7 linked regions of the Homo sapiens genome follow. The protein of the gene in region 6 interacts with the protein of the main gene of each other region in a pairwise test. Each region holds a gene or a part of one and is shown on either strand. Other genes may lie near its edges.

Region 1 (3,500 bases), on a different chromosome or scaffold from region 6:
GGCACCTGTAATCCCAGCTACTCGGGAGGCTGAGGCAGGAGAATCACTCGAACCTGGGAGGTGGAGGTTGCAGTGAGCCAATATCGCGCCATTGCACTCCAGCCTAGTGATAGAGCAAGACTCCGTCTCAACAACAACAAAAAGGTATCATTCCAATTTTACAGATGAAAAAACTGAGGCTTAAAGGAGTTAAATATGCCCCTTGTTCGTGGTTAATTAGCTAGTAAGGATTCAAACCCAGGCCCATTGAGCAAAACGTCCATGGTCTTTCTTATGGCTGCCCATATACAGTATCTTACCTTCCCATTTCTTAGGAAGAGGAAACACCAGATTCATAGTGTACTGGTTTCCTGTTCTGCGGGTGCCTTAATTAACCACATGAAGTAGGACAGATGAGCACAGCAAGGTATCAGCATATTCTGAAAATCTGGATGGCCTGTGCCCGTCTAGTTATCCAGGTTAAGTGTCTTTGTCCCAACGGCTGTGTGTGCATTTTTGTTCAAAACCATCCTTTTAATCGGCTTTGAGATGCAGCCAAAACAAAATGTGCCCTCTGCCTTACCAAGCCACACTTCAGCGAAACACCCCTGACCCAGCTTCTTCTCCAGACACAACGAACGACGTGCAACTTCCCAAGCATCTTTAGCCAATCCAGAAGTTTGTGGGGTACAACTCGATGCAATCACAGTTAAGTTAAAACACAAACCATCAGCTTTCTCTACAGGAAAGGGAATTAATAAAGAAAACACAGTCCTTATAATCCATAATTATGCATGCACTAGGAAAGATGGAAGGTGACTTGCCCGTTAGGATGACACTCAACAAATATTTGCTTTTGGAAATGAAGAGCAAGATATTTTATGGCAGCTGGAACATTCCTTGGACCATTTGCTGGTTTATGAATTGAGAGTCATGTAATAGTACAACTTGAGCCATTTGCCAATTTTGCCCACTTACTATCTTTTTTTTTTTTTTTTTTTTTTTTTAGGAATTCCAGAATGTTAAAACCAAAACTGAAATTATTATTCCCCACTATTAGTAATTCAAACTTTCTTCCCGGTCACGCAGTCTTTATTTTCACCTTCCATCTTTGGTGTTTGGGATCTTCCAAACGGGGAAGCTAATAAGAGAGTAATTGAGTCTCAGCATACCCATCCATACTTCCCCAAACTGCCCATTTCCCAGTCTCTTGATCAACTGCAGGGATTCTCGAGGGATTTCCCAGACATCTTTGGTTTTGACAGACAGATCGGTAAGCCTTGGCATCCCTTTGTGACAGGGAACTACTAGGCGGCAGCAGAGACCTGCAGCTCTCTCTGATGGAGCAGGGCAGGGGCAGGAGAGGGAGAGAAGAGCAGAACACATGTAATGACAACACTCATAAGTGTAAACCCACACTAGCGGCGCACAGTGCTCCTCAAACAGTGCTACTACACCAGCAGACGACCACACACATCGTGGAACACTAGCAGCACACAGCGCTCCTTAAACAGCGCTACACCAGCAGACGACCACACACACGGTGGAAGATCAGACGCCACACACGGAAACATTTTCATTGGAGGTAGAAGAGAGGACGTTTTAAATTTAGACTACTCCATGAGCCCAGGTACGATACAGTCTATACATAGACATACACGCAGACTGCTTTGGTTTCTGTACTCACTGAGGAAGAAAAACGTTTTCAGCTCAACGTGCTAATAACATGTTTTTGGGAATGCTGAAAATATCCTTACTAATTTCAAACAGTGGTTTTGGATTAAAGAATGTCAATATGACTGTTCTTCCCCACCTTTAGTATCTAGATTACCCAGGGGATTAGGGATCTCTCTATATGACTATACTTAAAATTATAACTTTAGTGGAGGATCCTTCTATAGGACATTAAACTGTTATAAACTAGTAAGGTTGAAGATTATAACTGGTGGGGAAAAAAAGAAGTAACTTTTTTTAGTGATTTCTTCGCTTTCTAACTGATTCCATTCCACCATGTCAGATACTCCTGGGCTGCTTCTTGGATATTTTCCATTAAAAAAAAAAAAACAACTTTTTAACAGTCTTCGACGTATAATTTAGGTGTCTGGTTTGAAAGGAGAAAGAATGGAAACTAAAATTCACAGAAATTCAAGATGTGAAAGAATGTATTCTTTATAAAAAAAAGAAGAAAGGAAAAAGTAGTTAACACTCGGAGGTTTTTATTCTTTCTTTGTCTTCTTTCCTTCTTTCTTTCTCTTCTTTTTTAAAAAGAATATAACCTTTTAGAATCTGGCAGTGCTAAGGGGAACTTAAATGCCAAGTAAAAATCAGTCAGGCGAAAAAAGGTAACAAAGAATAAGAAATCAGGGAGTGACAAAAGCTGACAGAGCCTGCCTTGTGAGGTGGACAGACCTCCCGCTCCCTCCTGGCAGCCCCCGGACCCAGGGAAAGCAGATGTGCTGCTGGGCTGTAACTTGCTTTTTACTCCTTTCTTTTTGATGGAATCAGGCTCTGAGATGTTTAGGTAGGAAATTATTTATGTGTCAGCATTTCAAAGGCATTTTATTGTGTGAGAGAGAAAGAGGGAAGAGGGAAAGCCAATATAAAAACAAGTCTAACGTGAGATGGATTTTTTTTCCCCGAGATTAAAAAAAGTGTCTATTGTTCATATCCCCTCTTTCCTTCCAGCTTTACAATGTTATTAAGGTGCCCTTTCGAACACAGTATTTTCAAATGATCCAAACCCTGGGGATCCTGCTGATGTTTGGCTGTAATGAAATATATTTCAGCATTTGAAAAATCCTTACAACATGCAGGCATTTTGAGTATATCACTTAAGCTCAGGGAGATATTTTGTTCCATTTCTCCCAAATGTTTCATTAGAATCCACATAAACCGAGTTAGCCAATGCCATAATCAACTAGTACTGCAAGTGCTGTTAATATTTTCTATTGTTCATTAGTGCAAGGGATCAACAGACATTTCTTATTGTCATTTTCGAAAGATTGCTTTTTCATGCCAAAAATTATACATACATATTTCAATGATTGTGCACAGAGCAATAGTAGAGGTAAATCATATACTATTTTTGAGTCTTGCCTTTGTCCTGGAGAACAATAGAAAATGGAGAAATGGGTCACACAAAAAAATATCTCTAGGCTTAATAGGATATAGACATGTGTCTATACATGTGCACCTATATCTATAGGCACATGTGAACATGTATTATATAGTGGCATATAATACTTGCTAATCTAGGAAAGAAAGCAATCATTTTAACAATTGCACATAAAACCAGTCTTTGATAAAATGTATAAACTGCATATCTAATAATTATATGTTTTCAGAAAGAACAAAATAATGGTGATATCTGGGTGTTAGGACAGAAACTGATGTACATTATAAAAGTTTAATTTAACACAATAGACATAATAGATCTAAGAGCTGTGGGTTGTGTAAGTCTAAGCCTAGTTAGGAAACAGCAGTATTGGTGGGGAACATGATAAATGGCTTGCATGAGAATG
Region 2 (2,676 bases), on a different chromosome or scaffold from region 6:
GGTGAGGAAGTCGGCACCGGGCAGCGGGTCCCGTTTGGGGCTCACTGGCTCAGAGGCAAATTCTAACCACCTTATCAGGTATGATGGCTGCGCAGACACCCCTCCCCAACCCTCCCGATGCTGACCTGCCGAAGGGACAAGGAAAGGGTGCACAACCGTGCCTGGGCTTCTCTGCTGGTGGCCTTGCAAAACCCCAGCAAGGCAGGGGAGCGCCCGAAGGAAAACAGAGCTGGTTCTTAGAGTATTGTGATTGCATTTTTTCTGATAAAGATAGCACACTGCTTGTCATAAGCTGTTTCCCTTGGTTTCTGTGTTTCTTTTCTAATCAAATTACCCCAGTTGACACACATTTAAGCAAATAGTTTCATTTCAGGTCACGGGGACTTAGCCCTGCAATCAAGGAACTGAATGAAATTCCTGGCAAAATACAGTAATTAGAAACACAATGAAAGCAGAATTGAAATGTCCCAGCCTCCCCACAACACCAAAAGGAAGTCTGGTTAATTTCCAAATTATATTTAGGATCAACAGGCAAGGGGTTCTTTTTCATACGGGCAGAGAAATTAGGACCAGACATCATTACAATAACCACACAAGACTAGGAATGTAATTATAAAATAAACCATACCCTAGCAAGCAAATTATTTTAATGTGTTTCAAGAATTGAATACTCTGTATGGAATTAAAAACAAAGAGAAAAAAGCAACGTGCAGAAAATTAATTAAAAAGAGTTAAGACACAGAAACTTCGAAATGTCATAAAATTACAAATACAAAAGCAACAAATTAAAAAACATACACGATTGCAGATTTCAGTAACATCAGTAGCCAGAACATACCCAATGAATCACTTAATCATCAAATATCTCGCTGATTTTGAAAGGGGGCTAGTGGTTGATGATTTAACCTCAATCAATCCAAAGGACATGACTCTTTCCTTACATTACAAGCAATCTGTAAAGATGGCTTTAAGTACCTTTGAAAAGGTGGAGTGTCCTTTCTCAAAGGAAACAGACAAGGAAGGGGTTATCCGCTCTGCCCCCCCACTACCGAAATGTGTACATTCATTCAACTCTGGTAACTAAGGCAACCAAAGGACAATTTCTTTTCTTTTTTTTTTTTTTTTTTGAGACAGTCTTACTCGGTCACCCAGGCTGGAGTGCAGTGGCGCAACCTCGGCTCACTGCAACCTCTGCCTCCTGGGTTCAAGCGATTCTCCTGCCTCAGCCTCCGGAAGAGCTGAGATTACAGGCGACCACGACTGCCTAATTTTTGTATTTTAGTAGAGACGGGGTTTCACCATGTTGGTCAGGGTGGTCTCAAACTCTTGACCTCAGGTGATCCGTCCCCCTTGGCCTCCCAGAGTGCTGGGAGTACAGGCGTGAGCCACTGCGCCCGGCCCCAAAGGACAATTTCTTGAGACCCCCACACACCTTCAGAACCACACATTCTGTTCATGTTAAAAACAAGAAATTAACAACCTCTAAAGCTAAGGACAATGATTCTGTAAAGTGCAAGAATGGTTCATTGTTTCCGCTTTTGTGGATTTCATGTTAAGAATACTTTAAAAGAAAGGGTGGGCGGGAGTAAACCAGGACCCCAGTCATATATTTGATCAAGAAATGACCCGTATGGCAAAGGTGAGACGTGGACCAGCCCTCAGGTGTCTCCAACTCTGTGCACACCACTGAGGTAGGAGCTCTAGAAGAAACGCAGACCCTCTCAGGGGGGTTAAGGTTTCCTCTTGGCAAATGAGCTGGGGGCCTGAGACAGTCATACCCACGGGCTGCATGCAACTTTGCATGCAACTTCACGAAATTCTAGAGCTGTATCACATCAGCGATGGAGAAGGGCAAGATCCAAGACAAAGCCACATGAGGCGAGGTCCTGGTGCTGCCATTTGTTGTCCAGCACAAATCAAGGGGCCGGAGGAAAGGGATGAGGTGGAAAACCCCGGCAGGCATTCTACAAAACAGTTATTAGCAAATTGTATCAAAAAGTATCAAAACATTTCAAAAAACTCTAAAAACTGCCAGGCTTGGCAGATGCGCAGGACAGGGTCTCCAAGTGCCCGTGGCGCTGCCCTATACTCCAGGCATTTATCCTAGAGGCCAGGATGCCACCCCCTCCCCTCCCCTCCTGGGCACTCAGAATCCACGGAGACACCAGGAGGTCTAAACCTCATCTGCAGCTGCCCCTCCAGGTTTGGGACCAGTGGACGGGGTTCCAACCACGGGCTCTGACAGCCACAAGGCCCATGAGATGCTGCTGCACCATGGAGGACCAGGGTGAAGGATGAAGGTCAGTGACTCTACAGGGGGTGGTGGGGGGTGTGGCAGGGGTCCCCTCACTTCCCACATTGCTGCAAGTCACTGAACGATCACTTGGCTTAGGGGCCGAGGTACACTGAACCACAGGTGAACACAACTGAGCTCACAAAGTAGGCCCCTGGACCTCAGAGGATGGACCCCACTTCCCCTCAGCATCTGGATGCCCACCTCAAAGGTGAACACCCCTTAGGGTGAGTTTCTGGGTCTCCATGAAGTCACCTTATCATGAGTGAGGGCACTCAATATAAATACACACGTGTGGTCCTGCTCAGAGCCAGGTCTGAAGTCCCACTTGATAGCCTCAATAAAATGGCAGAACAATAAAAATACCAATTGCGTGCTAACCA
Region 3 (3,500 bases), on a different chromosome or scaffold from region 6:
AACCAGCCAGCAGTATACACAGGTGTTCCTAGTGGGTCTTAATAACATTAAGTGTCTGTAACCCTGAGTGAAATTCTTTTTAAATTCTTTTTTCTTTTTTGAGACATGGTTTCACTCTGATATCCAGGTTGGAGTGCGGTGGCACAATCTTGGCCCACTGCAGCTTCGACCTCCTAGGCTCAGGCGATCCTCCCACCCCAGCTTTCTGAGTAGTTGGGACCACAGGTGCATGCCACCACACCCAGTTAATTTTTCTATTTTTTGTACAGGTGGGGTTTTGCCATGTTGCCAGGCTGGTCTCAAACTCCTGGGCTCAAACGATCCTTCTGCCTTGGCTTCCCAAAGTGCTGGGATTACAGGTGTGAGCCACTGTGCCCGGCCCTGAGGGAAATTCTTTAAAAGCAAAATTCACAAACTTTTAAAGCAAAGTATCCAATTTTTATTGATTCTATAACATATATATGTGCATATATTGTAGTATCTTTATCAATCAGGATTTACTTGCTGATAACAGAAACCACTGCAACCTAGTTTAGACACAATGTGCTTTTGTTAGTTTCTGGCCATGCACAGAAGCCTCCTGCTTACAAGATGAATGGAAAGGCTGAAGGAGCAGCCTTTAGTCTGACTTCCAGGAATGACTCTCAGAACACTATCACATAACTGGCTGTCCAGAAGAGATGCTATCTCTGCTTACAGCCTGGAAGCTGGAAAGTCATGAAGATGCTGCCCATTGCTGGCTCCAGAGCCACATTATTTTAGCCACAATCCCCACCAGCAAAATGGATGCTCCTCGTCCTGCCACACCACACCCTGGGGTCTCTGTTATTGCTCTTCTAGAAAAATAAAATGCTCTGTGGCTGTTTGTTGGCAGAAACATTACCTCTATCTCATTTGGCCTTCCCAGTTTCAAGTAGGTACATCTGCATAGAGGAAGCTAAGTCACATTTGGAATTCAAGCTGAAAGGGGCTCTGGGAAATGTAGGCTTCAGCTTTTTTTGGATCCACCAGTGAGTCACGGCACACCTGTGTGCACAAATGGGTTACAAGTGTGTTAAGAGATAGCCATCTTGGACCGGGGGTGGTGGCTCACGCCTATAATCCCAGCACTTTGGAAGGCCAAAGGCGGGCAGATCGCAAGGTCAGGAGATCGAGACCATCCTGGCTAACATGGTGAAACCCTGTTTCTGCTAAAAATACAAAAATTAGCCGGGCATGGAGGTGGGCACCTGTAGTCCCAGCTACTCGGGAGGCTGAGGCAGGAGAATGGCTTGAACCCAGGAGGCGGAGCTTGCAGTGAGCTGAGATCACGCCACAGCACTCCAGCCTGGGCGACAGACCACGACTCCGTCTCAGGAAAAAAAAAGAGATAGCCATCTCCTGCCTTCTGGGCAGCCACTGCCCTCCTGGCCAGGAAGCTCCACACCTAGGTCTCCCTACAAGTCAGCGCAAAACAGGGTGGAGTCTGATGGTCCACCTCTCAGGCCCTGTGAATGAAGAGTATGAGAGAGATCTGTCCTTTGCTGCCTGGCTGTGATGTGCTGTGTGAAGACAAGGCTGTGCCACGTCCCTCGCCAGCTACCTAAGTGGCTTGCTGCTGAGTGAGCCACTGACCATCATAACTGCTGGGTAATTTCATGGAAAAGTGCAGTCAGTTGGGATTTGAGGAATGCCAGCTCCTCATAGGTAGTTCCAAGTAGATGCCCCAAATCTCTATCTTACAGAAACTTCTATTTGCTTAGAGATGTCCAAGCCAGTTGCAGGGTGACTACCCTCACAACACATGACATTCTATAAATTGGAATGTCATTGTTATTTGGAAATACTTGATATGAATAGTTCAATTGCATTTGAGGTCCATGTGTATTATCACAAAAAAAATACCATCACATTTTGTCAATGACAAGAAGAGTTGTTAGGCTATGTATATATGAAATTTTCAATTTTTGAATGTTTTTTAAAAGTTCTAAACTGTTTAATCAGCTTTGTGTAAAGAAAGTTTCTATTCAGTGGTAACTACTGAGAATTCGGAGAGCTGGTAAATGTCTCAATCAAGAATTGAGCTGGGCACAGTAGCCTGTACCTATAATCAGTCCTATCTACTTGAGAAGCTGAGGCAGGAGGATCCCTTGAGCCCAGGAGTTTGAAGCTAGCCTGGGTAACATAGCAGGGCCCCATCTTTAAAAATCTAAAAATTAAAATTAAAAAATAATAAAAAAGAATTGCATGTAGCTATTTCAAGAATACAATTTTATATCTTGTATCTAGAGCAAGATCAACCTTTTCATTAGGGATTCTGAAAAAAATATTTGGATATCTCACACAAAATGAGCATTTAATATATTTCCTAATTTTTTTCTATGTGTGCCATAGATCAGTGGTTGTTTAGGGGACAGAGAAAAAAGCAAAGACAGGAACCTTTTAGAGGTGATAGATATATTCATTATCTTGATTGTGGTTTCACAGATGTGTGTGTGTGTGTATGTACGTCAAAACTGACCTAACGGTACACTTTAAATATATGCAGTTTACTGTATGTCAATTATACTATAATAAAGCTATTTTTTAAATTATGGGAGAAGAAAACCCCACAAAGTACATTCCAGAAAGGTATTAATTTACAGTCTACCAACAGCTTATGCAAGTGCTTGCCTCATTATACCTTCATCAGCACTGTAATTCTTAAAAGAAAAAAAACTGCTAATTTGAAAGGCAAAACCATCTCTTCTGTTTCAATGTGCATGTCTTTACAAGTAGACTGAACTTTTTTCATGTTCATCAGCTCTTTGCCCATTTTTCTTTCATTGACACAAAGCAATGAAGAATGCTAACACTAGAATGCTAGTAAAAGAGGGATGCCTTTTTATCTGCCAGGTTAACTAGTACAAACTGAAAATTACTACCCTAAAAGGTGGTCATAAATATTCACAAATTTGTCAAATCCTTTGAAGAGGAGTCATAATTAGACACTCAAAACTGATGCACACTCAACATTTAAAGACAAAACCTTAGTTCCTTTAATAACAGAATATCTGCATCTTGTTCTGAAGCTTATAAGGTTAAATCACTTGGCCAAGTATACAAAACTAGAGGTTGTCCAATCTGGAACCAGAAGCCTGATCTCCTGGGACACAAGCTGAAGAGCAGGTGAGGATGAAATGATGTGGAACCAATGGCATAGCTGAGACTTCAGGAAAGGAAAATTCTTTGAGCCTTATCTTCCTCGTCCATAAAATGAGGGAAGTAACAATTAAATAATCACTAAATTTCCTTTCAGCTCTAACCTTTTCTAAATGCAAGCTGGATAAATTGATACAACCTGGCAGCTGTTGTCATATTGCTATAGTTTTTGTATTTTTTTTTTTTTTTTTTTTTTTTTTTTTTTGAGACAGAGTCTCGCTCTGTGGTCAGGCTGGAGTGCAGCAGGACCATCTTGGCTCACTGCAATCTCCACCTCCCGGGTTCAAGCGATTCCCCTGCCTCAGCCTCCCCAGTAGCTG
Region 4 (2,390 bases), on a different chromosome or scaffold from region 6:
GATTCTCCTGCCTCAGCCTCCCGAGTAGCTGGGGCTACAGGCGCCCGCCACCACGCCCGACTAATTTTTTGTATTTTTAGTAGAGACAGGGTTTCACCATGTTGGCCAGGCTGGTCTCGAACTCCTGACTTCAGGCAACCTGCCCGCCTCGGCCTCCCAAAGTACTGGGATTACAGGTGTGGGCCACCGTGCCCGGCCCCATTTTATTTTATTTTGAGGCAGGGTCTTGCTGTGTCTCCCAGGCTGGAGCACGATCTTTAGCTCACTGCAGCCTCCACCTGACTTGAACTGCTGGGTTCCAGCCATCCTCCCACCTCAGCCTCGCAAGTAGCTGGGGCTACAGTCATATGCACTGCCACATCGAGCTACGAAACCTACACTTAAAACAGGGTGAATTACAAATAAAAAATATTTCGGTTGGGCGCGGTGGCTCATGCCTGTAATCCCAGCACTCTGGGAGGCCGAGGCGGGCGGATCACAAGGTCAGGAGATCGAGACCATCCTGGCTCACACGGTGAAATCCCATCTCTACTAAAAATACAAAAAAAAAATTAGCCGGGCGTGGTGGCGGCTGCCTGTAGTCCCAGCTACTCAGGAGGCTGAGGCAGGAGAACGGCGTGAACCCGGGAGGCGGAGCTTGCAGTGAGCTGAGATCGCGCCACTGCGCTCCAGCCTGGGTGACAGAGCGAAGCTCTGTCTCAAAAAAAAAAAAAAAAAAAAGAAAGAAAAAAAAAGAAAAAATATTTTAAACGGCCACTGGCAGCCAGGCTCAATGGCACATGCCTGTCATTCCAGCACTTTTGGAGGCAGAGGCAGGAGGATCACCTGAGCCCTAGAGTTTTGAGGCCAGACTGAGCAACACAGCGAGACCCCATCTCTAAAAAAAAAAAAATGGCCACAGGTACCTGAAAGGGGGACTCAGGGGGCCACAGCCAAGAGAGCTCAAGTCTCCTCACTCTGCTGCCAACACAGGTGACCCTGGTTCACCCCCCTCTCCACCTGCTCATGTCATGGTGGTAAGTGGGTCGGGGCAGGAGGCATCTCCTCCCCCTGGCTGGGGTCATGTCTTGCTCCCTGGTGGCTGTCCCTCAGGCACTCGTGGCCCCCTCCTCCTGGTACCCCCTTCTCACCATCTCTCCCCCACCCCTTCCTTTATAGCAGGGAGCTGCAGCAGACTGCTTGGAGACTAGGAAGAAAGGTGGCCACCGAGTCTGGCATAGCAGCCGGGGCTGTCCTCTACCTTGTCTCTGAAGGCTTCAGGGCCTTTGATTTCTGGGAAAGCTCCCACCTTCTTTCCAGATCCCTCTTTGCGTGGAACTTCTGCGCAAATGAATAAGGGCTACCCACTTCTTGGCAGACCAGCCCTGGCTCTGTGAAGAGGCTCCTGGGGAAAAGAGTGTGGAGTCTCTTCCACTAGGCAGGCAGAACCCCACGTGGCACGTGGCTGGGCAAGGCCATCTGAATGGAAACTGCAGATACAGCACTGCCTTAGACCATCCTGCACGCACCCGCGCTCACCACACACACACGTCGTGAATATAAACATCCATATACTGGTACAGGTGTGAGTGCTTCTCTGGCCCCTGCTCTGCATGCTAATTGTCTCTTCTGCACCTTCCGGGTGGATGCGAGCTCTGCCCGGCAGATGCCCTTGTGCAGGGTAAGGGGGCCAAGCAGTGGGGCCCTGGTGACCCTAAGGGGGCTGGAAGAACCGTGCCCAGAGCCTAGCCTTCTTTGAACTCCTCTGTGAGAATTTAGTAGGCATCTGGGCTTTGAAACTCTGTTGAGTTTCCAGCACTCCCGAGCAGCAGCAACTGAGCCCACATAGCAAGCGTGAGCACGCACAGAGAAACAGCACAGCCACACACTCGCTCTTACCCCCACCACACAGCAAGTGTGAGCACACACACACAGCCACACACTCGCTCTTACCCCCACCACACAGCAAGTGTGAGCACATACAGCCACACTCTTACCCCCACATAGCAAGTGCGAGCACACACAGCCACACACTCGCTCTTACCCCCACCACACAGCAAGTGTGAGCACACACAGCCACACACTCACTCTTACCCCCACCACACAGCAAGTGTGAGCACATACAGCCACACTCTTACCCCCACACAGCAAGTGTGAGCACAAACAGCCACACTCTCGCTCTAACCCCACATAGGTCAGTGCACTTCATTTGCTGGTCTGCTTCACGTTTTAAAAATGCTGCTTCCTGGCCAGGAGCGGTGTCATGCCTGTAATCCCAGCACTTTGGGAGGCCGAGGTGGGCGGATCATGAGGTCAGGAGTTCAAGACCAGCCTGGCCAACATGGTGAAAACCTGTCTCTACTAAAAATACAAAAATTAGCCAGGAGTGATGGCAGGCTCCCGTAGTCCCA
Region 5 (3,500 bases), about 110 Mb from region 6:
AAGAAAAAGTCTAGTTCACTGACAAACCACCACTTTACATCTCACGTTTTAAACAGGGTTAATCAGATGTCAAAAGGAAACAGCTTTTAATATTCAAAGGATGCTGGTTATTTATTTCAATTTGAAAAAAACTGTAACCAATACATGGAGCTCCAAATACCCACTTAAATTTTTTAATGCCAGATTTCAGTGAAATATTATTTTAGCAGGTCCAATTGTCATGTACTTTGCTTGAATAAAATGGGTTGATGAGCATCTTAAGGTCAAGATGGAGCAAAGACAGAAAAAGTCAGGCAGGCTTACCATGAAATATATTTTTTCAGCAGGTAGTGACCCATGTATTATCAGCAATAGTCTACGGAAAGTGGTTTCCATTGAAGGGATAAAATGGTTGGTGATATGACCTCATCAAGTTAGAGAAAAATGTAACTATGTTTGAAATATATACTATTCCCTCAACAAATAGTTCAACAGTTCCTACTCCTGAAAATGGTGTATGTTAATGCTAAGGAAGATGTAAAAAATGTAAGCACAATCTCTTCCATAATCCTGTGACATGAGCAAATGCACAAATAAAAAAAATTAATACAAAAATTGTATAACTGCTATGGAAGGGCAACTCACTCAGACATGTAGCCAAAAATGGAGACGTATGTTGACTTAGTTGGCAAAAGGTTTAAATTGGTCTTAGTCAAAAAAAAATTTTTTTAAAGCATTGTGAGGGAAGAGCATGAGAAAAGCATAAGAGTAACAGTGAATTCCTTCAGGGAAAGCTGTCAACCTGGATAGGCAGGAGCAAAGACAGAGGGCGGCAAGCCTAAGAGGGGGTCATGTAAAGGGGAGAGTCTCTGAATATCTAAGAACTGAGACGGGGCATCACTGACAGGCTGGGAAGAGGGAAGGGCTAGGAAGCATTTTAGGAAGGGGAGGGTTTTAGGAAGATAATATTGCCGATCAATGAAGGATGGCTCAGAAGAGAAGAGAGAACTCAGAAAAGAGTTTAATAGTACAAGCAAGGAAGAATGAGGTCTTGAACTAGGGCAGCTGCGGTGGGAATTTTAAAAAAAGAAATTTAAGGGCCATTACAGAGGTAAAACTTGCCTCATGATAACTGCATGGGAAGGATAAGGGACTTAGAAGAGTCCAAGATGATAGCAAAGTTCCTACCCTAAGTGGTAACATGTAGCATTAACATTGACAGGAAAACTTCTAGTCTCATGTTCATACCAATTAATAAATGGTTTCTGGTGAACATTATAGCAACATTTTCTCTACTTGTGACTTCTATTTAAATAACTGTTTTGTGTATAGATCATTCTCAAGTTGCTTGAAAATTTTATTTTCAAACTCTTTTCTCAGTTTATTTAACACATCTCAGTTAGTGTAGAGGAGTGACATATGAACATGTCTTTTCACAAGGTTATTAAAAAGAATACCTTACCTCCCAGAAGGGAATTCCATTGTTACCTAAATAATGTACATCTACATGAAGAAGAGGTCATTGATGACAATTTGCTAATGTGCTATACGACAGCAGATAATTCACAATTCACAACGTGTTAATAATTTGCTGGCTTTCCCATTCTGTTATACATCTGAACCATCTCTTATGACTACAAATTGTCATGTAAAACCATTACTAGTCGCTGATAATTTTGAAAGTGAATATGCCATAAAACACTCCTGTATTACAGCAGGAAATAAAAGAGACACTCAGTAGTTACACTTGCCTACTTCCTATTTAACTAAAACTCTTGAAACAACACAAGTAAAAAAGACATCCAGAAAGGATTTATGGTCTTCCTGCCTTCCACCATAGATGTGTCATTGATGTCCTGAAAACTGAAAATAAAATCTTCATTAAAACCCATTTATGCCTAGTGTTCCATTATTGGAACGCTAAGCTTGTGGGAATCATGTATCTCCTACCGCTCAAGAACATAGCCAAGGTCTGTTTCTTCACACACAAAAAATGTGCAGCCTCCGGCATAAATGTGTCAATGCGTTAACAATATACACAAGATGTATATTTCCAGGTAAAATTTCCAATTTACCTTTTCCTGTTCTAAATAACTCCCACAAAACTATTCACGAATCCTAAAAATACATTTACCAGTTATGTTAAATTTGGAACAATACATTCAAAGTGAAAATGGTAAGTAATTTAAAATGCATAACCAAAATGTCTTTCCATACATTCGGAAACAAACAGACTTTCTTCTGTTATGCACGTGTTGTATTTTATAATGTATTATGTTACCAAATAGAACAGACCTTTAGTAATTGCTCAAGTAGCGGCTTCATCTCTCTCAGCCTCCAGCTCCTAACACCTGTAGGTTGTTGCCACCTCTTCTGTTTTTCTTGAAATGCTTTCTAGAAGCACAAAAAAATAGTGATGAAAATTGGGTAATTTTTAATACTTACAAAACATAATTCTGCATTAGCTTTATAGGAATACTCTTTAAATCTATACTTCTTAACACTTTCTTTTAAACAATGTTTATGACCAATTTTAAACAACTGTGTTCACCACCCATATGCTAAAATGATATAATAACCTTTTTCATCAGTGATTAAGGAATTTTCTTTCTTCTACATACATAATCAACACATATGTCTTAATTCTTGATTTTGAATGTAGAGTATTTGACGACCCTTCCTATAATTTGTTGACCACAGATGGGTAAGATATATACAGAAATTAACTAAGAAACATTCTTTCTTACTAAGATTTTAAACAGGTAATAAATCTTGGTCATTTCAGTATGCACACGGATGAACCTTCCAATAATGATTGCCTTTCTGCACCTTGACCTAATCTCCAACAACAGTGTTCTCCTCTCCTCTACGTGGCACTCACTTATACAGTCATCCCCTAGATTTTATCATTCCCAATGACTGCAACATCTACATAATATTAATAATAGCAATGATAAAGAGCAATCATGGGTCAGATCACATCCTGAAAAATTTAAATAAACCCATTACACAGGAACCTTTCAATCCTCCAAATAACTCTGACATAAGTTCTCTTACCGTGTCTCCTTTTGCAGATAAGGAAATTTCGGCACAGAGATAAATAATTTGCCCATGGTTCCCGAGCTAGCAATCGTCAAGCTGGAGTTGAATTACAAGCAGTGGGGCTGCAGTGTCCCAGCCCTTGACCACTGCACTCAGCTGTTTCTCCATCTTCCCAACATACAGCCACTACCTTCCTGCCACTGTAGGTCACTCACTTCAGTACTACAGCTCAGGAGTCTGTTGAGACCCGACACCCACTGAATGGAACACTTTTCACTGCCCATTGCCCACCCCCATGTGCTCAGGTAACTCAGTCCCAGCTGAAATTCCACAGCCAGTCATCATATCCCCATCCCTGCATCTATGCCCTGCCCAACTCTCCTTCTATCAACGTGCGCAGCTACACCCCAACCCAGGAAATTCCAACCCTACAGCTGCTTTTGCACAAATATGCCAACCGGGCTCACTTTAACTTCTTT
Region 6 (3,500 bases):
ACAGCCTGATTTAATCAGGCAGCTCTCCAATTACTGCCGCATATGCTATGCTTCCCCCTGCTGGAAACATCCTGCTCAAAATCCTCCGCTTACTCAAATTCTACCATTAGCTGAGTTTCAGCTCAGGTCCTACTTCTCTACCAAGCTTTCTCACTACTCTAACACACACTGAGCCTTCCTTTATCACTCCTCCTAATCAGGACCACTTGTGGGAACACGGGAACACTTTTAAATCAGCCAGTCTTTTCTTTTTCTTTTCTTTTTTTTTTGAGACAGGGTCTCTCTCTCTCTGTCACCCAGGCTGAGTGTAGTGGTGGGATCACAGCTCACTGGAGCCTCAACCTCCTGGGCTCAAGCGATCCTCCACCCTAGCCACCCAGGTAGCTGGGACCACAGGCACACGCCACCACACCTGGCTTTTTTTTTTTTTTTTTTTTTGTAGAGACAAAGTCTTAATATGTTGCCCAGGCTAGTCTTGAACTCCCTGGCTCAAGTGATCAGCCTGCCTCGGCCACCCAAAGTGCTGGGATTACAGGCATGAGCTACCATTCTCGACCTAAATCAGGCACTCTTAACCACAGGGATCTACATATGGGTTCAGGGACTATGTTCCATATGCAAAGTTTACTGTGTACTTTTTCTTTTTTGAGAGGGAGTCTAAAGTTTTCCTCACACTGTCAGAAGAGATTTATGAACCCTCTACTCCCTCAAACAAAAACGCAAACAACAACAACAAAATCAGACTGAGCTCAATGTTTTCCAATTTTTCCATGTAACTCGGGAATAGCATTTAGCTTTGTCTCCCCAGCTCATTCTTAGGCTACTTGAAAGTGAGGGGCATATCTTATACTAGCTCTGAAAGGCAAAACAGGGCACAAAGATAAACTGATAAGATAGCCAATAACCATTTGCTTTAGTTATACTCTCAAACTAAGAGATTAGTAAAAAGAACACTAGGATTTGATTTCCAAGTCTCATTCTGCAATACCTCCCAAATTTTACGTGAGCTTATTTACTTCTGGTTCTTTCGAATAGGATCTTTTGACATCCTTAAGTCCAAATGAGTTATTAATCCCCAGGTCTAGGCAACTAAAGCCCATCTACCTGTTTCTGGGGTCAGAATGAAACACTATCTGCAAAGAGCTAAGCTACTACAAATACCACATTAACTCAATCTCAACGGGCAGGGGGAGAAAGAAGAGAATTATATCCCTAACAAAATTAAAATCTCGACCACGTGCGGTGGCTCACGCCTGTAATCCCAGCACTTTGGGAGGCTGAGGTGGGTGGATCGTGAGGTCAGGATTTCGAGACCATCCTGGCCAACATGGAGAAACCCTGTCTCTACTAAAAATACAAAGATTAGCCGGGCGTGGTGGCACGCACCTGTAATCTCAGTTACTCAGGAGGCTGAGGCAGGAGAATTGCTTGAACCTGGGAGGCGGAGGTTGCAGTAAGCCGAGATCAGGCCACTGCACTCCAGCCTGGGCGACAGAGCGAGACTCCAGCTCAAAATAATAAAATAAAATAAAATCTCTACACTCTATATCTTCAAAATATTTTAACACGCATTTCAGTTCTGGGAATTACTAGAATGGCCTAATTGCCAATGCTTCCCAAGTTCATTTTGACCTGAAATTGTCTTAAAATAACAGCAAATGTTGACTTTAGTCTCCCCTTATCCACGGTTTTTGCTTTCCCTGGTTTCAGTTACCCATGGTCAATTGAGCTCTGAAAATATTCAATGGAGAATTCCAAAAGTAATCAATTCATAGGTTTTAAAATGTACGCCATTCTGAGTAGCATGATTAAATCTCTTGCTGTCCCGCTCTGCACAACCAGGAACATGAATCATCCCTTTGTCCAGTATATCAACGTTGTCTACACTATCCATCCGTTAGTCACTTAGTAGCCATGTCAGTTATCAGATCAAAAAAAAAAAAAAAACATAGCATTTCCTGTATAGGGTTTAGTAGTAACTGCAGTTTTAGGCATCTACGGGAGATCTTAGAATGATACCCCCTGAGTGTAATGAGGGACTACTACACCTTTAACTAATCATCATTTACTTTTCAATCAAAATCCAACCTAAATGATAAAAAGATTTGAACAAGAGGCATTTCTCCTAGTCTCAGGTTACTTAACTTTTACACATTTAAAATAGCTATTAGTAGCCAGGCACAGTGGTGCATGCCTGTAGTCCCAGCTATTCAGGAGGCTGTGAGGCATGAGGATCGCTTGAATCCAGGAGTTCAAAACCAGCCTAGGCAACATAGTGAGACACCCCCCCCAACCCCCGATCTTGAAAATAAAGTAGCTATTAGTAAAGCATTTTCTCATTCATCAAACCTTTGTTTCATGCACACTACTGAATGAAATCAATAATAGTTAAGTATATGAATTCTGCAGGTCAATAGACTGCTTCAAACACCAGCTCGCCCACTTACCAGACTGTGTGATGTTTGGAAAAGTCATTTAATCTTATCAAGCCTCATTTCCTTTACCTGTAAAAATGAAACAACATCTACTTCCCAGGGTTGCTGTTAAGAATTAAGTGAGATGCTGCAGGTAACACACTAGGTGTGTTACTGTATACTAGGAGATATATATATATATATACACACACACACACACTAGGATATATATATATATATATACACACACACTAGGATATATATATACATATATACTAGGATATGTGTGTATATATATACTAGGATATATGTGTATATATATATATACATATATACTAGGATATACATATATATGTATATATATACACATATATATGTATACTAGGATATATATAGTAAGGTGACTTACTGTATACTAGGATAATACCTGGTATACAGTAAGTCACTCAAGCAATGACAGCAAATATCATCAGTATGTTGGATGGTGTCATATGTGCCATGCATGGGGTCAGTGGGAGGGTTATAAAGACATGAAGTTTCCATGCTAGTTAGGAAGACAGACATTCATAACAATTTTAAAATTGTTTACATTTTTATCATTAATAAAAAGCAAGAGAACATAACACAAATCCATTCTTAAGGTTACCTTTATCTTCAGCATCAGGAAATGTTGTGTTATCACCAGTGTTGTAGGAAAATGAGACGCTGTCAATTGAATAAGTAGATGCTGCCTTGGTAAAATTCGCAATCCAGGAAAAGCCAGGTCCGAACTGCACTGCTATTTTGGGACCATTCTGATCATCCCCACAAATGCTTCCATTATATGTCACAGTGCCATGGTCTGAAATGGTTACAGTTTTCTAAAAGAAATAGAAATTTGGGGGTGAGAAACAAACAGGCAGCAAGGAACACCAAGCATTTATGTAGGGCATGCCACTTCAGCCTAAATCATACATTCTCCATGGCCAGGTTGCCCTTTGCCTGGTTTGCTGTGTAAACCAGTCCCTGATTCTTCTGCTACATACCACTCCTCTGGATAAATTCGTGTATGTCTAAAAAGAAAAGGAAAACTGGCTTGAGCTGCTG
Region 7 (2,573 bases), on a different chromosome or scaffold from region 6:
ATGTTGGGACAGGCCTCTGGTAGCTCCACATGGGGTGGCTGATTTCTGGCATCATGTTCGGCCCCGCAGCTGTGGTTCACGGTGCTGGAGCACTATCACCGCACCAGCTGCATCGTCTCTGACCTCATCATCGGCAACTCCTATGCCTTCCGTGTCTTTGCTGAAAACCAGTGCGGACTCAGTGAAACAGCCCCCATCACTACGGACCTCGCCCACATCCAGAAAGCAGGTAAGGGAGGCATGGGGATCATGAGCTGGGAAGACTTAAGGATAGGCCGGGCACAGTGGCTCACGCCTCTAATTCCAGCACTTTGGGAGGCCAAGGCAGGCGGATCACCTGAGGTCAGGAGTTCAAGACCAGCCTGGACAACATGGTGAAACCTCATCTCTACTAAAAATACAAAAATTAGCCAGGCATGGTGGTGCACGCCTGTACTCCCAGCTACTCAGGAGGCTAAGGCAGGAGAATTGCTTGAACTTGGGAGTTGGAGGTTGCAGTGAGCTGAGATCGTGCCACTGCACTCCAGCCTGGGCAATAGAGTGAGACTCCACCTCAAAAAAAAAAAAAAATACTAAGGATAAAGAGTCGACGAGGGCTGGGATCTCAGAAGCTACATGCCAGCCCCTCTTGGTGCCCTCAGCTACTGTTTACAAGACCAAGGGGTTTGCCCAACGAGACTTCTCTGAAGCCCCAAAGTTTACCCAGCCTCTGGCCGACTGCACTACAGTCACCGGCTATAATACCCAGCTCTTCTGCTGTGTCCGCGCCTCTCCCCGGGTGAGTGGGGGCTCTGGGGGGCACTGTGCTGAGCTGCTTCTTGTTCCTGCCTGTCCTAACCTAAGCTGAGTTGCAGAGCACTGTAACATAACATCTGTTACCATCACCGCCATCTGCCTCTTCTACAGCACGGTATTTAGGAACAGTCGGGGGGGTGCTTGGAGTCCAAGACGGACTGATGAGAATGACATTTCCTTTTGAATGTTTGTTTCTCATATATGGAGGTGTTGCTTACTGACCTGCTGGCAATTAGGCATGCGCCTCAAGTTGTTTCTGTGGTAGGAGTGACAGAGTCCCTGTGGTTTCTCCTTCCCATGCATACCTCATCCCATCAGGGCCGTGCACATGCAACCTGCCTAGAGTTCAGCCTTTTGCCACAACCCTGAGCAAGGCTCTCTGTCTATTTACAATCTAGTCATCATGCTCCACACACAGCAGAAAACACCATTAACAACCTGTACCAAGAATCTTTTGGGTTTTGAGTCTGGGCAAGACTACATGGAGATAACATCTCAGAAGGGGCATATCAAGAGCCCACTCTAGAAGCTACTCTCTAACCAGAGGGGACAGAGGCAACTCACAAGTCAGCAGTGGGAACAGAATATGGATGGTTCACAAGAGGTGAGCCTGATGCTCAGTGCTTCTGATCCATAAAGGGGCTGCCTGAGAGCCCGGAACGGAAGTTAGCAGTTTTCTTCCAGTCAGAAATATTGGTAAAGAAAATGAAGTTTCAGGTGCTGTTTTCAAACAAGAGAAGGAGCTTGGGGGACTGCTGGTGGCACTGGAAGGGGAAACCCTTCCCACAACATAAGGAACAGGGAGCCTTCCAGAAAGCCATTATCTCTATATAGACAGAGTCCCAGAAACTGAGCACAGAAAGACTATTGGTTCTTACCCTCGCCCCTCCTTGCTGCCTCCCTCATCTTTGTCTTCCAGCCCAAGATCATCTGGCTGAAGAACAAGATGGATATCCAAGGCAACCCTAAGTACAGAGCCCTGACTCACCTGGGAATCTGCTCCCTAGAGATCCGCAAGCCGGGTCCCTTTGATGGAGGCATCTATACCTGCAAGGCGGTGAACCCCCTAGGGGAGGCATCTGTGGACTGTCGGGTGGATGTGAAAGGTAAGGGCAAGAGGAGAACTAGTGCCTTAGGGTGCCAGTCACCTCCTCTCTCCACCGGTGGAAGAGTCAGGGAACAGAGACGCAAGCCTAGGGGGAGAAGGGGTTCCTCCGCTGGACTCTTTCATCACTGTCATCATCAGGATGTATTGGAGGAGACATTTTAATTATCTACTATCTCATTTCTCTCCATCACAATTCAATAATATAGGAAGAATTCTTATTTCCATTTTGCAAATGAGAAGACGAAAGTACAGGGAGGGAACTGGTTTGCCCAAGATTCCCAGTGTCAGTTAGTTGATCACCTGGCACTGGTGGAAATAGCCCAGGTCTCCGGGTCCTCGCTCAGCTCATTTTTCTTTATGCTGTGCAATCTTCTGACTCAGCCTAGGAAAGCTGCAACTGTTTGTCAGGCTTTATTTCACTTCCCCTCCGGTTTATTTATAGGTAATATTGCATATCCTCTCTACTTCCTTAAAGTATTTAATCACTTATCTATACCTGTCACCTTGTTCAGATCTCTATCATTGTGTTTAACATACTGTTTTATAATTATCTATTTATAGATATGTTTCCCTATTAAATTATAAGCATTTTGAGGGTAGGGACATTGTCTTATTTGCCTTTGTCCCCCCAGTGTCTAGCCCAGTTTCTGACACACAGTAGGCACTCTAA

What was found.
Region 1: the proteins of LAMP2 (region 6) and FYN interact in binary tests that used the Homo sapiens proteins (3 or more experiments, as listed by UniProt).
Region 2: the proteins of LAMP2 (region 6) and KLHL36 interact in binary tests that used the Homo sapiens proteins (3 or more experiments, as listed by UniProt).
Region 3: the proteins of LAMP2 (region 6) and FASTKD2 interact in binary tests that used the Homo sapiens proteins (3 or more experiments, as listed by UniProt).
Region 4: the proteins of LAMP2 (region 6) and SPMAP2 interact in binary tests that used the Homo sapiens proteins (3 or more experiments, as listed by UniProt).
Region 5: the proteins of LAMP2 (region 6) and FAM9A interact in binary tests that used the Homo sapiens proteins (3 or more experiments, as listed by UniProt).
Region 7: the proteins of LAMP2 (region 6) and MYBPHL interact in binary tests that used the Homo sapiens proteins (3 or more experiments, as listed by UniProt).

Annotation. Positions count from the first base shown.
Region 1 is NC_000006.12:111,698,953-111,702,452, forward strand, and holds part of FYN (tyrosine-protein kinase Fyn), read right to left. Parts: intron 1,317-3,500; coding exon 1,152-1,316; intron 719-1,151; coding exon of another isoform or gene 563-718; intron 1-562. UniProt on the Homo sapiens protein: Non-receptor tyrosine-protein kinase that plays a role in many biological processes including regulation of cell growth and survival, cell adhesion, integrin-mediated signaling, cytoskeletal remodeling, cell motility, immune response and axon guidance.
Region 2 is NC_000016.10:84,665,511-84,668,186, reverse strand, and holds the end of KLHL36 (kelch-like protein 36), read right to left. Parts: 3' UTR 501-2,676; downstream 1-500.
Region 3 is NC_000002.12:206,793,106-206,796,605, reverse strand, and holds the end of FASTKD2 (FAST kinase domain-containing protein 2, mitochondrial), read right to left. Parts: 3' UTR 417-3,500; downstream 1-416. UniProt on the Homo sapiens protein: Plays an important role in assembly of the mitochondrial large ribosomal subunit.
Region 4 is NC_000019.10:363,637-366,026, forward strand, and holds part of SPMAP2 (sperm microtubule associated protein 2), read right to left. Parts: intron 1,385-2,390; coding exon of another isoform or gene 1,289-1,384; intron 1-1,288. UniProt on the Homo sapiens protein: May be involved (but not essential) in spermatogenesis.
Region 5 is NC_000023.11:8,791,384-8,794,883, forward strand, and holds part of FAM9A (protein FAM9A), read right to left. Parts: intron 2,374-3,500; coding exon 2,275-2,373; intron 1-2,274.
Region 6 is NC_000023.11:120,452,297-120,455,796, forward strand, and holds part of LAMP2 (lysosome-associated membrane glycoprotein 2 isoform A precursor), read right to left. Parts: intron 3,275-3,500; coding exon 3,061-3,274; intron 1-3,060. UniProt on the Homo sapiens protein: Lysosomal membrane glycoprotein which plays an important role in lysosome biogenesis, lysosomal pH regulation and autophagy.
Region 7 is NC_000001.11:109,294,439-109,297,011, reverse strand, and holds part of MYBPHL (myosin-binding protein H-like), read left to right. Parts: intron 1-69; coding exon 70-229; intron 230-641; coding exon 642-778; intron 779-1,714; coding exon 1,715-1,901; intron 1,902-2,573. UniProt on the Homo sapiens protein: Myosin-binding protein which plays a role in cardiac function. Seems to regulate conduction in the atria and ventricular conduction systems.